Linked DNA regions of Homo sapiens. Each later gene encodes a partner of the first gene's protein in a complex. Each region holds a gene or a part of one and is shown in the gene's direction. Other genes may lie near its edges. The genes, in order: MAP2K1 and KSR1.

The links.
Region 2: the proteins of MAP2K1 (region 1) and KSR1 are in contact, whole or in part, in a crystal structure (PDB 9AXH), measured with the Homo sapiens proteins. Residues at the interface, in NP_002746.1 of Homo sapiens: Asp217, Ala220, Asn221, Ser222, Phe223, Val224, Gly225, Thr226, Arg227, Ser228, Met230, Arg234, Leu235, Gln236, Gly237, Met308, Ala309, Ile310, Phe311, Leu314, Asp315, Val318, Asn319; in XP_011523731.1 of Homo sapiens: Asn767, Gln768, Leu769, Lys770, Leu771, Ser772, His773, Leu776, Val784, Arg785, Met787, Thr788, Pro789, Asn823, Gln824, Ala825, Ala826, Glu827, Ala828, Ser829, Ile830, Trp831, Gln832, Gly834, Ser835.

The regions. Positions count from the first base shown.
Region 1 is NC_000015.10:66,389,912-66,396,911, forward strand, and holds part of MAP2K1 (dual specificity mitogen-activated protein kinase kinase 1), read left to right. Parts: intron 1-7,000. UniProt on the Homo sapiens protein: Dual specificity protein kinase which acts as an essential component of the MAP kinase signal transduction pathway.
Region 2 is NC_000017.11:27,620,212-27,627,218, forward strand, and holds the end of KSR1 (kinase suppressor of Ras 1), read left to right. Parts: intron 1-981; coding exon 982-1,062; intron 1,063-1,717; coding exon of another isoform or gene 1,718-1,724; exon of another isoform or gene 1,725-3,102; coding exon 3,103-3,181; 3' UTR 3,182-6,224; downstream 6,225-7,007.

The DNA.
Region 1 (7,000 bases):
TTTTTTTCATCTGCAAAAATGGGGCTAATGATAGAACCTACTTAGCATAGTTGTGAAGATTAAATGAGGTAGTACATAGTAAACTTCCAAAGCTGTTGGCTGCTGGTGCCTTTGTTACTGCCTAAGTGTTGGACCAAAGGAAACTGGAAGGTGATTTTCATTCATGGTGGTAGATTATGTGTTAAGGTGCCTTTGCTTCTGGACAATCAACTCTCCCTAGTTTGGTTTTTTGTACCATCTGCATCTACCTCTATGACTCATTGCTGTGTTACAATAGGAGGCATCTTTGTGTAGGCTGCCCAAGACAAACAGGGACTGTTTCCCTGTGTTTCATAGCACTAATGAGAGGGAAAGCTGTACACATCTTCATCTTTCACTTCTGAGAGTGTTCCTCAAGCAAAATGTTCCCTATCTTGGGCTACCAGCAGAAAGAATTCTGTTGCTTTCATGATTTCTGTGATTAGACCAGGGCACAATTTTGAACGTTATCAGACAATGTGAACTAAAGAGGAAGAAAATCCATTTTGACAGTAAAGAACTCTTGGTACCAAATTGGCAAGGTTGCTTTTCCCTTGGCACCTGTGCTTACCTCTAACATAGCCCTTACCCAGTTCAGAGATGGAGTTGGGTAATACGGGACCTGAAGTTGATGCAAGTTGTAGGGGTCCTCAAAGAAAAATCATGCAAAAATAGCTTTCTTTTGTGTATTTTGCAGAAACATGTGAGCATATTACTAGGGTCTTAAGTGTTAGAATGAGATAATGAGATAATATTGTTCCTCTGTTTAAAATGTTCTTCTGGTTCTATTGCAGTTACACAAAATCCAAACTCCTTATATTGGACTATGAGACTGAGTGATCTGCCTGTTGTCCCCACCACCCCCTCCCACCAATCTCTTTAACCACATTTCCTGCCACTCCTTTCTTCCACCACACTAGTCCTCTTTCACTTCCTCTATGGGATGGTCTATACGCACTGCAGGCCTCTGTACATGCTGTTCCCTTTGCCTGGAATGAATCACTCCTCCTTCCCTAGGTAGGCAGGAAGCAGTCTTCACCTATTTGCCTAAATGTCACTTCCTCTGAGATGTTTATAAGCATCTCAGAGGAATGTGGTCCCTCTTTGTCATGTCACCTGAGCTGCTGCTTTTTTTTTTTTTTTTGGTATGGGGGTCTTGGTATGTTGCCCAGGCTGGTTCTTGAACTCCTGGACTCCAGTGATTCTACCACCTCAGCCTCTTGAGTAGCTGGGACTATAGGTGGGTACTACTGTGCCTGGCGCTCACCTGAGCTTTTAATAAGACTTAATCATTGTAATTTTTCATTGGGGTGTTCTTAATATTTATCTCTCCTGTACACTATAAACTTTAAGCACAGCACTGCCTTTTTGTTTTTTGAGACGGAGTCTCGCTCTATCGCCCAGGCTGGAATGCAGTGGCACTACCTCGGCTCACTGCAAGCTCCGCCTCCCAGGTTCATGCCATTCTCCTGCCTCAGCCTCCCAAGTAGCTGGGACTACAGGCGCCCACCACTGCGTCCAGCTAATTTTTTGTATTTTTAGTAGAGATGGGGTTTCACCATGTTAGCCAGGATGGTCTCGATCTCCTGATCTCGTGATCCCAAAGTGCTGGGATTACAGGCGTGAGCCACTGTGCCCAGCCTGCACTGCCTTTTTTTGACTCACCACTCTGTAAGTACACCCAAAATAGTTCTGGCACATAATAGGTCCATAGATGTTTGTTGAGTCAGTGAGTGAATGAAATTTCTAATATTTGCACAACGGGTTTAATAAACCTTTTTATGTCTTTTCCTTTTCTTTTCCCCTTTATGCTCATTCCTTTTTTCCCCATTTTCTTTTGTTTTAGTCACCCACTCAACCATTCTAAGATATTTATATGGTTTTATAATTCCACCTGTTAGTCTGGTTATGTGTATACCCTTGGGAAGTAGAAGGATGGTTTTGTATGTATCTGCTTAGGATTCTAAAATGTTATTGTGCTACAAATCTGCATTTCATAGACAGGATAGAATAGGTTATGTTGAGGTAACAACCACAAAATCTCAGTAATTTAACACACTTTCAGGTCAGTGGGAGGCTCTGTAGATTGGAGTCCTTTAGGGATCCAGGCTGATCGAGGCATCGTCTCTCAAGTATACCTACATGAGGAGGGAATCTTGTGAAGAGCTACATTCAGGCTCTTAAAGTTTTGCCTAGAGGTGAGCCTTGTCATTTTTGCTGCCATTTCTTTGGCCAGAGCAAATCATGTGGCCATGTTGACCTTCAAGGAGGGCAGTGACCTTTTTGGAAGGGGGAGAACCACGAATATTTGTGTGTTTTTTTTGGGTTTTTTTTTTTTTTTTTTTTTTTTAAGAAAGGGTTTCGCTCCCACTGCCCAGGCTGGAGTATAATGGTGCGTGCCACCACGCCCTGCTAAGTTTTGATTGTTTTGTAGAGATGGGGTTTCACCATGTTGCTCAGGCTGGTCTTGAACTCTTGGGCTCAAGCGATCTGCCCACCTCATCTTCCCAAAGTGCTGAAATTATAGGTATGAGCCACTGTGCTGGTGCACCAGGAGTATTTGAACAGAAGCAATGACCATCCCTAAATTTTATATCAGTTTCTTCTTTGTTTTCTTTTCTTTTCTTTTTTTTTTTTTTTTGAGATGGAGTTTTGCTCTTGTTGCCCAGGCTGGAGTGCAATGGCATGATCTCGGCTCACCGCAACCTCCGCCCCCCAGGTTCAAGCTATTCTCCTGCCTCAGCCTCCTGAGTAGCTGGGATTACAGGCATGTGCCACCGTGCCTGGCTAATTTTGTATTTTTAGTAGAGACAGGGTTTCACCATGTTGGTCAGGCTGGTCTCGAACTCCTGACCTCAGATGATCCGCCTGCCTCAGCCTCCCAAAGTGTTGGGCTTACAGGCGTGAGCCACCATGCCTGGCCTTAGTTTCTTTTTTTAACCAATTTTGTTTTGAGCTCTATTCATGATGCTATACAATATGTGTCTAGTTCATTATTTCTCTTGGTTGTAGAGCAGTCATGTTTGCCTGCCACATTTTACTTATTTATTTCTCTAGAATTAGACATCTTTGTTGTTTCCCAACCCCTTGCTGCCTCAAACAGTCATGACCATGCCCATCCTTGCACATCCTTGTCTCCTTTGGATGTTGTGAGAGAGTTTCCTGTGGAATGTACTCAGAAGTGGAATTGCTGGGTCTTAGGGTACATTGTCTCTCCTTCCAGGATAAGGCATGTTATCTCTTTCTCTCTCTCTTTTTTTTTTTTTGAGACCGAGTCTCACTCTGTTGCCCAGGCTGGAGTGCAGTGTTGCAATCCTGGCTCACTGCAACCCCTCCCCACAAGGTTCAAGCAATTCTCCTGCCTTAGCCTCCTGAGTAGCTGGGATTACAGGTGCCTGACACCATGCCCAGCTAATTTTTATATTTTTAGTAGAGACAGGGTTTCATTATATTGCTCAGGCTGGTCTCCAAGTCCTGACCTTGTGATCTGCCCTCCTTGGCCTCCCAAAGTGCTGGGATTACAGGTGTGAACCACCGCACCGGCTATTAATCTCTTTCTTTAAAACAATACCGTTAATCCAGTTGCAGTAGTGAGGCAGGGTACCTCTCAAGATCTCACTTTTTCTTTGACCTTGGGCAAGTCCTTTCTACTTTCTGACTCTTGGTTTCCTTAATCTGTAAAGTGGAGGTGATAATTGTTTACAAAATCTTTACCATGGTGGCCTACAAGGCCCTACCTGACCAGGTCCTTAGTTTTCTTCCAGTGTTCTCTTCACTCATGCACTCTAGCCACACTGTCCTTTGTGCTGTTGGGTTGTAGGTTGGGCACATTCTTATCTTAGAATCTTTGCATTTGCCATTCCTGCTGCCTGGAAAGCTTGTCTCTCAAATACCGTATGACTTGCTTCCTCACTTCCTTCACCCCTCTGTTGAAATGTCTCTTCACAGAGGCCATCTTTGATCACTGTAATACAGAACTCCCTGTCATTTTCTACCCTTTGATTTTGCCTTATTTTTCTTTGTAGCGCTGATCACTAACTGATGTTACATCGTGTATAAGTATTTATCTTCTTCTGCCACCCCAAGTGTAAGCTTCATGATGGTTGGGGCTTTGCCTTGTTCATTGCTCAGTGTGTAGAACAGATTCTGGCACATAGAAAATACTCAGTAGATACCTGTTGATTAAATGATTGACTAGATCCTACCTCAGAGGAATACCTTTGAAGATGTATAAAATTTCTTTGAAGGCTATAAGGTGCCGAATAACCTTAGGAGGGTTCACTGCTTGGCCTTAGTAGCGTTCATGATTTTGGATTTTGAATTGTTTCTATGTAACCCTGAAACACTCAGACTTACTTATTGCATTCAGGGTGTAGTTCATAGCATCAGCAGTTCTGCCAGGTTTGTAAGGAACACACATCTGTTAGAGTGTGAAGGCCCTGGAGGAAGAAAGGTTGAGACAGGTTGATGTGCTTTTTTTTGTCTCTTATGGCTCTTTCTGAGATGTGTACCATGATGATAACCAGGAACTTTTTTTTTTTTTTTTTTTTTGAGAGACAGGGTCTTGCTCAGACACTCAGGCTGGAGTGCATTGGTGCTCACTATAACCTTGAACTCCTGGGTTCAGGGAATCCTCCTGCTTCAGCCTCCTAAGTAGCTAGTACTACCGGCATGTACCACCATGCCTGGCTAATTTTAAAATTTAGAGATAGGGTCTTGCTGTATTGCCCAGGCTGGGCTCAAACTCCTTGCCTCATGCAATCCTCCCTCCTTGGCCTCCCAAAAGTGCTGGGTTTACAGGCATGAGCCACCATGTCTGGCCTGATAAGTAGGAGCTTTTGAAGTGGTTTCACACTGATTTTGTAGTTTTGAACTTGGATGCTTCTTTTGGGTAGTTGATGCAGTAACTAATACTGGTGCTGTCTTTCAGAACAGCTTCATGTGAAAAAGGCCTGCTTAAGCCTGTGTCTTTGGGAAGAACATCTCTGCCGCTGTTACAGCAGATACAGTAATAGCAAAGAAAGTCTTAAAGATGATTTAGCCCATGGCAAGGAAATATATGGGACTCTTGTTTGAATATAAACACTCACAGAATTCCAGTTTCACTTATTTATGCACCTTTCAAAGAAAGGAAGAAGATACTGTGGTAGAGTACAGTAGTCCTCCCTTATCTGAGTGGCATATGTTCCAAGACCCCTAGTGGATGCCTGAAACCACAGATATCAATAGTACCAAACCCTGCATATACTGTGTTTTTTCCTATGCAGTATATGCCTATGATGAAGTTTAATTTATAAATTAGGCATAGTAAGAGATTAACAATAATAACCAATAAAAAAGAATTATAACAATATATTGTAATGACAGTTACATGAATGTGGTTACTGTACTCACTGTGGGTAACTGGAATTGTCAAAGCAAAACTACATTTAAGTGGGTACTCCTGTAGCTGTTGGCCCTGCCTTGCCTATCTAGCTTAATTTTCCTCTGTTTTTCCGTTCACCTGCTGTGGTCCACTTACCACTTTCTTTACTCTCCTCACTGTGCCACCAGCATACTGTTGCTTACCTTCTTACATCTGTCTGGTCTTGCTGACATGGTTTTTTTTTTTGTCTGAAATGCCCTCCTCCACTTTCTTGCATGATTTTTTTTTTTTTTTTTTTGAGACGGAGTCTCACTCTGTCACCCAGGCTAGAGTGTGCAGTCACATGATCTTGGCTCACTGCAACCTCTGCCCACTGGGCTCAAGTGAGTATCGTGCCTCAGCCTCCCGAGTAGCTGGGATTACAGGCGCACACCACCACGCCGGGCTAATTCTTGTTATTTTTAGTAGAGACGGCGTCTCACCATGTTGCCCAGCCTGGTCTCGAACCCCTGACCTCAGGTGATCCACTGCCTCAGCCTCCCAAACTGCTGGGATTACAGGCGCCTGGCCCTCTTGCATGTTTTTATTTTTGTTTTATACTTGCCACTACACTTTAACTTCTGTGAAAACAGGGACTGTGATTGTCTTGTGTACTGGTATTTCTCCACCGTCTGCTGTGGGGCCTAGAATAAAATAAATGGTACCCATCTTTTTTGTTTTGTTTTGTTTTTGGAGATGAGTCTCACTCTGTCCCCAGACTGGAGTGCAGTGGCGCGATCTCGCCTCAGTGCAACCTATGCCTCCCGGGTTCAAGCGATTCTCCTGCCTCAGCCTCCCAAGTAGCTGGGCTACAGGTATGCGCCACCACATCTGGCTAATTTTTGTATTTTTAGTACAAAATTTAAAAATGATGGCCTCGATGTCGTGATCCGCCCTCCTCGGCCTCCCAAAGTGCTGGGATTACAGGTGTGAGTCACCGTGCCCGGCCCTTTTGTTTTTTTGAGATGGAGTTTCACTCTTCTCATCCAGGCTGGAGTGCAGTGGCATGATCTTGGCTCACGGCCACCTCCGCCTCCCACATTTTCCTGCCTCGGCCTCCCAAGTAGCTATGATAACAGGCACACACCACCATGGCCGGCTAATTTTTTTATTTTTAGTAGAGACAGGATTTCACCATGTTGGTCAGGCTGGTCTCGAACTCCTGACCTCAGGTGATATGCCTGCCTCAGCCCCACAAGGTGCTGGGATTACAGGCGTGAGACACCGTATCTGCCCCGGATGGTACCGATCTTTCAAGATCTTACATAAAGCTTATCTCCAATGTGTGTAGTCTTTTCTGAGCAACTCCATGCCATGCTCAGTTACATCACTCCCTACTTAGTTATAATAGTTCTTTTTTCTTTTTTTGAGACAGAGTTTTGCTCTTGTTGCCCAAGCTGGAGTGCAATGGCGTGATCTCGGCTCACTGCAACCTCTGCCTCCTGGGTTCAAGCGATTCTCCTGCCTCAGCCTCCCAAGTAGCTATGATTATAGGCGCACACCACCACTCCCAGCTAATTTTTGTATTTTTAGTAGAGGCAGGGTTTCACCATGTTGGCCAGGCTGGTCTTGAACTCC
Region 2 (7,007 bases), on another chromosome or scaffold:
ATGGGTCGGAGTCCAGTACAACTGTGGGGTAATGGATCGTAGCCATAGAGGTATACATTTTAGGCAGCCATTGCTGCACACCTGCCGCATGCCTGCACACCTGCCGCATTGCTACACAGATGGCCGAGGCCAGGGTTCCACCAGCAAGGAGATTGCAGTGTCCTAAAGACAAACAGACACACTGTAATGAAACCTGCACACATCAGGACTCTTTCTTGTCACCTTTGTATTCCTGGCTCCTAGTACAGTCCCAGGAACATTATAGTTGGGCACTAAATATTTAATGTGCATGAATGAATGTGAGCAAAGGGTGATACCATGCCAAGTGCTGTGATAAAGCCCAGATGGGGGCCTCTGCATCCACCTGGGGGACAGGAGGAAGAGTCTCTGGAAGAAGGTCGTCAGGGCTGGGTTTTGAGCCAGAACTATCCCAGCAGAGACCAGGAGCATGGGGCTCTTAGCAGTTCAAGGAGGGTGATGTGAGGCAGCGAGGCCAAGCTCTAATCAGACCGTGGGCAACTTGCTTAACAAGCTGGGCCCTGGTTTTCTCCGTGACGAAAGAAAAGGCTCCACTAGGTGGACACTGGCATTCAGAACATCATTCCAGATTCCCCAAAAACCATATAGTCCCACCTTCTCATTTCACAGGCAGGAAACTGAGTCACAGATGGGGCTGTTCCCTGCCCAGCCCCTTCGAGGAAAGCATGCGGGCTTTCCTTTCCTGAATGAGTCTGTGTCAAAGCTTCCTGTTCACAGTGTTTACTTTCTACACGCTTGCCCCCTAATTCTCACTTTCTCTTTTCTTTCCATTGATCTTGTCACTTTTTTATTTTCGGGGGGTGGCGGATGTGCTGTTCTGTCATCTCCCACTTTCCCATCACCTGATTCCTCCACCTGTCCACACGTGCCTGACTCCATCACATGCCGGGGCCGGACTGCGCTCTTCCCACGCCTGGTGGAATGGTCGCTGGGCACTCCCAGTCGCTGGAGGAGCCGCTACTATGGAAAAGGACGCTACGGCCACCCTGACTTTAAGAGCTCCTGTCCGATTCTGGAGGAATAGTGTGTTCCTGTTACTTCCTTCGCTGGCTGCCTGTCTCTGGTTTTCCTGACACAAGCCCTGCTTCCTTTCTGTCGCCGCTTCCCAGCTTCTCCCATCTTTGTGTCATTTATTCTCGCAAACCAAAGTGAGGTTTCTGCAGCTGAAATGGCTTCCAGCAAGGGTCACACAGGCTTGCATTTTTCGCTGGGTGAGAGAAGAGCCACAGCATGTGGCGGGGCCTTTGTCCACACCATGAGTGAATGGGTGGCTTGTCCCTGGGTCGGAGAAAATTCTGGTCATTGATTTGAGCCCCCAGGATCCCAGTCCCCCTGGCCAGAGCTCAAGAGAAGAGAATCCAGTTAAGCAGAAATACTCTTGGAAGTAGATTTTACTCGTCAAGGGCTAAGGAGCTGTGGGCATGTTCCATCCTCTTTATAAACGTGCTGCAACTGTGCCCTGCGGGAGCTTAGAGAGGGTTCTTTGTGCCCAGGATCCCTTCTGAGCATGCAGTGCAGCCAAGCCTGGGGGATGGAGTCCAGGATGGCCCTTTCTCTCTGGAAGAGAAAGGGAGTCCCCTGCCCAGCTGCTCTGGCCAGACCTCTAGCTCCCGACAGGCTCTGCATTGGGGCTATGATTCTGATGCTGTTCTTTGCTTTCTTCTCTTTCCCTCTGTAGGTTGTAGGCCTGGCTGCCTTGCATGCACCAGGGGCTTTCTTCCTCCTAATCAACAACTCAGCACCGTGACTTCTGCTAAAATGCAAAATGAGATGCGGGCACTAACCCAGGGGATGCCACCTCTGCTGCTCCAGTCGTCTCTCTCGAGGCTACTTCTTTTGCTTTGTTTTAAAAACTGGCCCTCTGCCCTCTCCACGTGGCCTGCATATGCCCAAGTAACTGCTCTCAGAGGATCCCACTAACTGAGCTCCCTCCAAGGCAGTCTGGGCAGCTTCTAACTACCTTCCTGGACATGACTGATTGCTCCCGTGTTCTTCTGAGGGCTGGTCTTGTTTTTGTTTGGGTGGCTCTGTCTCACTGCTAACACCTTAGTGAGATGCCTTCCACCCTCCTGAGCACACCAGCCTCCCACTGGGTGTGTGCCTAGTGCGGGGCGGGCGGAGGTTGGGAGGGTGTTGGCTTGGCTTTTAACCTGTGGGGATTTTGTCCAACAAGGAGTGGAATGATTTCAGAGCTGCCCTGAGGCTGGCACCCTGGTCACAGGAACCCTCTGCGCTGGCTCCTGTCTCAGTCCCCTCTGTAGAGTTAGATCAGAAGACACAGAAAGTTCTGTGGCCATGAAAGATACCAGCTTGGAAGGGTTGTGTCTTCAGTGGCACCCTCAGAAAAATTGTCTTAAAGCAAAGAGGTACCTGGCTCCAGACAATTTTTCTGATGAAAACAAAGTCTCTGCCCCGTCCCCACCCTGCCACCCTGGCAAAGTTACTTCCTTTACAGCTGCCCAGTGTACCATAGACCAGACCCCAGGTCAGCATTTGTCAAGAGCATGGCTGCTGAGTCCCCTGTGGCAGTCAATGCACTGTTTACCAAATGCAGGTTTCTGTTCTCCCTCCCCAGCAAGACCTGCTGAACCCAGATCTCTGGAATGGGGCCCTAGGAATTTGCATTTCAACCTGCTTCCCAGGTGGCCCTGATGCACCCCAGTATTAGAGTTTATTGCTAAAAGGAACATGCCCTGTCACTCCTGGTATCCTGGGAGTCATGTTTCTCTTCTCTCTCAGTTCTACTTGGAGCAAGAGCTTTCCTGGGCTGCAAATGAGAAAACAATTCCTAGGAACCCACAGCAGTACTGAGCATGCTGGGAGCTTGGGACTTGGAGATGAATGAGCCACCGTTGCTGCTCCAAGTAGGACTACTTGGAGTGTAGCTGAGGCCTTGGACGCAGTATGACCAGGGGCAGCTCTGCCAGGGCTGTTGGCCAATCAGTCATTTTCATTTCTTGTTGGAGGCCAGGTCCTCTGCTGAACTCATTTCCTAGCTAGTGTTACCCTAATTCTGATGAAGATCAATGGGGCTATAATTCTTGTTTTTGTTCCTCTTTGCAGCATTAACAGCAGCAAAGTTGTACCCCGGTTTGAAAGGTTTGGCTTGGGCGTCCTGGAGTCCAGTAATCCAAAGATGTAGCCAGCCATATGGTTTTTCGCTGCTGATCTCTTTCTTTTTAAAATGTGTTTCTGAAACATCCCAACAACCACCACGACAAAAAAACACTGCCTGCCCAGCGCTGCAAACCAGGAGCACACGTCCTAGATTCAGACTGTTGGCCATAAACCCCACTCGGGAGATGGAGCTGCACCTGCTATTTCTTAAAATGACACCACCAACAACCAAACCTGTCATGACAGACAGCAAATGTTTACACGTATATTTCTCCTGAGTGAACCTGATGTTTTACAATAGGTAATAATAAAAACAGTCTGTGCAGATGCACTGGCACTGACGGCCAGGATGGCGGAAATGGCCATCCCCTCTGAGGACCTTGTAGGCGGTGAGGGACCCATGCTGGGCCAGAAGGAAGACAAACATGGTAATTGCAGCTGTTCTTGGGGTAGGGCGGGGAGCCCAGAAGGTCTGATCTGGCCTCTGCTTTTTGGCCCAAGACTCCATCAGGGAAATCTATCTAGGGCTCTCCCCTTGTCCTTTCAAAGGGATACTGCCCCTTCCTCGTCTTGCAGAGGAAACCCTGGCTAGGAACTGAGCTAGTTTATGGAGTCTGGAATTCCTGGAGAGCTTGGGTTCACCTTCTCACCCCTGTAATCCAGGCTGCTCCTGCTGGAAAAGTAGAAACAGAATCCAAAAAAGGTCTGGACTCACCCGGTGGTTCCCAGCCAGGGTTTCTGCTGCAAGGTGAGGAAACATCCATGGCTTGTACAGATGTGAGTCTTTGATGAAGCCCCCAGGCAGGCACCAAGGTGATGGGACTCAGGGCCTTGGCTTTTAGATACATCCCAGTCCCTGACTGACATCTGACCATGAGGGCTGGATGGGTGGGAACAAGGAGGAGTAGATGGCAAAAGTACCTGAGCCCACTTCCCAGCCACAGGGTGACCCTGGCACTGTAAAAACCCTTTGTCAGTCATGCCAGAAGGTTCTAGAACTGCCCACCTCTTCCATTTCAGTCCTGCTGAAACCCCTTAGCCTATTTCCGACTCCTCTGTCCATGCTCTGAGTTCAGCTGGGCAGTGTGTGGGCTATCACCCCTTTCATTTAGACCTACCTAGCTGGCCCCCATCTGCAGAGCCTTCCTTAGCACCATTAGGCCTTCTACTTGTGTCCATTTGAAGCAGGAGGGGCTGGATTTGGAAAAGTCTTTGAAGTGAGAGCACCACGCTTGTCTTCGTTAGAAACTCTTAACTGCAGAAAAAAGTTCCAGATGGCAAGGGAGCCCTTAAGTGGAGATTAGGTTGCATTAGACTCCAAAACCAGAAAGGAAAAAGGGTGATGGGAGTGGAGACGTGATTGGATTCAGGCCCAGAACCTGTGACCATGCTCTGAGCTCAGACTTGGGGAGGGAGGGGTGTGGCTCCCACCCCTTCCAGTTAAGACCTGCCTAGCAGAGCCCCAGTCTCCAGCCCCTTCCCTAGCACCAGAGTCTGGTCAAAATGCCACAGAAAATGAGCTGCTCTGCCAGCAAGCTGTGGAGCTGCCTCCTCTCCAGGCCTGGCATCCCTTGGTCAGCCCCTCCTGGGAGGGCACAGCCGTATTACAGTGCCAGTGTGCCTGGCCATCAGCATCTTCACCCTTCCCAGTCTGTGTGGGGAGGCTGTAAACCCCGTGGATTCAGCTCCGTGTGGAGTTTCTGTGCTATGGTGGGACTGCTCATTTTGCCCCATCATCCCTTTGGCCTCCCACACACCTGCCCCTTCCCAGGGATCACGTGTGTCTCCAGCCTTTCACCTTTCTATTGCAATGGTGGCCTTTGTCCAGGCAAGAGCAGGCCTGATGGATGTACTGGTGAGCCCCACAGTTGGATGTCAGCTCAGCCGTCCAACTGGGAGGAACAGTAGGCTCAGTTCCTCCCTGACCCCTGACACCAGGCCGCAGTGGGCATGCACAGGCCCACAGAAAGTCAGTCTGGGTTTTGCTTTTCTCGTGAGCATCACAGTTAAAGAAGCGCTCATTGAGCAACTACAGTGCACTTGGTCTTCTGCAAGTGCTGGGCACCTAGAGATAGGAACAGTCATGGTCCCTGCTCTTAAGGAACTGATGACCTGGTGGGGCCCTGTTGTCTTCAAGGAACCCAGAAGCCACTGGGCCCCAAAGGTGGAACTGAAGGACTGGGGGCAGCTGGCTCTCAGCCTGCCACCTCTGCACTGCCTGCCTTTAAAGAACCCCACCCCACCCCATGATGGCCCCCTCTGTTCCCCTTGTATTTCAGTGACTGTGAATTGAGGTTAGGAAGGCACACCTGCCCTTCTGTGTGCTCTCTCCACACGAAGGATGACAGATACTGTGAATTCAGCCCTCACGGCCAACTGTGAAGGGGATGGAGAAGGCTGGGAGGGCTCGGGGAGAGCTCTTAGGGGCTGCGGAAGTCCCCACGGGGGTCTGAGAGTGGAGCCCAAGCTTTGGCCCTCCAGGCATCCCCAGTTTCCAGCCTCACCTCTGAAGCCCTGCTGCCTTTAACCACCAGAGCCGCAGCCCCCTGGGTTTCTGTCTAACTCGAAGTCTTGAATCCTAGCTAGTTTGGGGTTGTGAGCAGTGTGTAGCAAAGTTGATCTCTCCATGTCACCAAATCAAAACACCCTCTGTCATCCTACGGCATTTCCTCTTGAGGTCACAGAGAGGAATGGCAAGCCCTGGAAACCTGTGTTATTCTGTGTTGATTTGGTGTGGGGGGAGGGTGGAGACGTAAATGTGAAGCCAGTTGGAGTTTGTGCTATGCAGCAGTGTTAGCCAGGATCTCATCAGCGTGCAAACCTAGCATCTTCTGTGGCCACAAGCCACACACTTGCTTTTTTTGAATGTGATGTAAAATTTGTACAGTAAAGTTTTTATATTTTCTATCAACTACATTTGTCTTCCAGACATGCTATTAATTTAAATTAAAATGGTTAGTATTAACAAACATGCTGTATCGGGTTTTTTTGCCACTGGCAAGAACATGCCCTCTGTGCTAAGCCAGGCCTGGGTGTCTGGAGTTTGTGAATAAAGTTATACCAAGGTGTTCTGGGGCTTGTCTTTGCTTTGGTCAGTTCCAGCTGAGTCCTGGGGACCATTTGGATGGGTGGCATGGGAATGGATAGGTCTGGGGTGACTGAACCCCTGGTCTATAGATTAAGGAGCTCCTTCCAAAGGAAGAAGTTATGCCAGGACCTCAGTGGCAGGTGTTTCTAAACAGATGGAGGAATGGAGAAGGCACAGCGTCAATGGCCCACAATGCGCAGAGGAAGATCATCCAGGCCCCAGCAGCAACAAAGCCATGAGCAGGCCCAGCATCTCCTGAGCTGGAGATGCCTTAGCCTTATGGAAGCCTTGGAGGGATGAGGTGGTGTTCATCTGAATCCAATATCTAGGAGCCCCTCATTGCCAGTTATATATACAGATAGGTGGAGAAGAGGTACTTTCTAAACACCATCTCACTTTAATCCTCACAAGGCCATGAGGTAAGAATTGTGATGTTTCAGCTGAGGAAAATGAGAAACGGAGAGGTTAAGGTATTCACCCAAGATCACACAGCTGCAGGGTGGCCAATCCAGGACTCAGGCCACAGCTTTCACTCCAGAATCTCTCCAGAAGTCTAGGAATTTGCTGGTCAGACATTTACTGAGCACCTACTATGTTCATAAGACAGTGCTAGGTTGTGGAGCATTTTCCAGGATAGGCCGCGTGGTAGGCCACACATTAAGTCTCAATAGATTTAAACATAACATACAAAGCATCTTCTCCAACCACAATAGGATGAAGTTAGGCAGCGGCACTAGATTCTCATAGGGGCACAAACCCTATT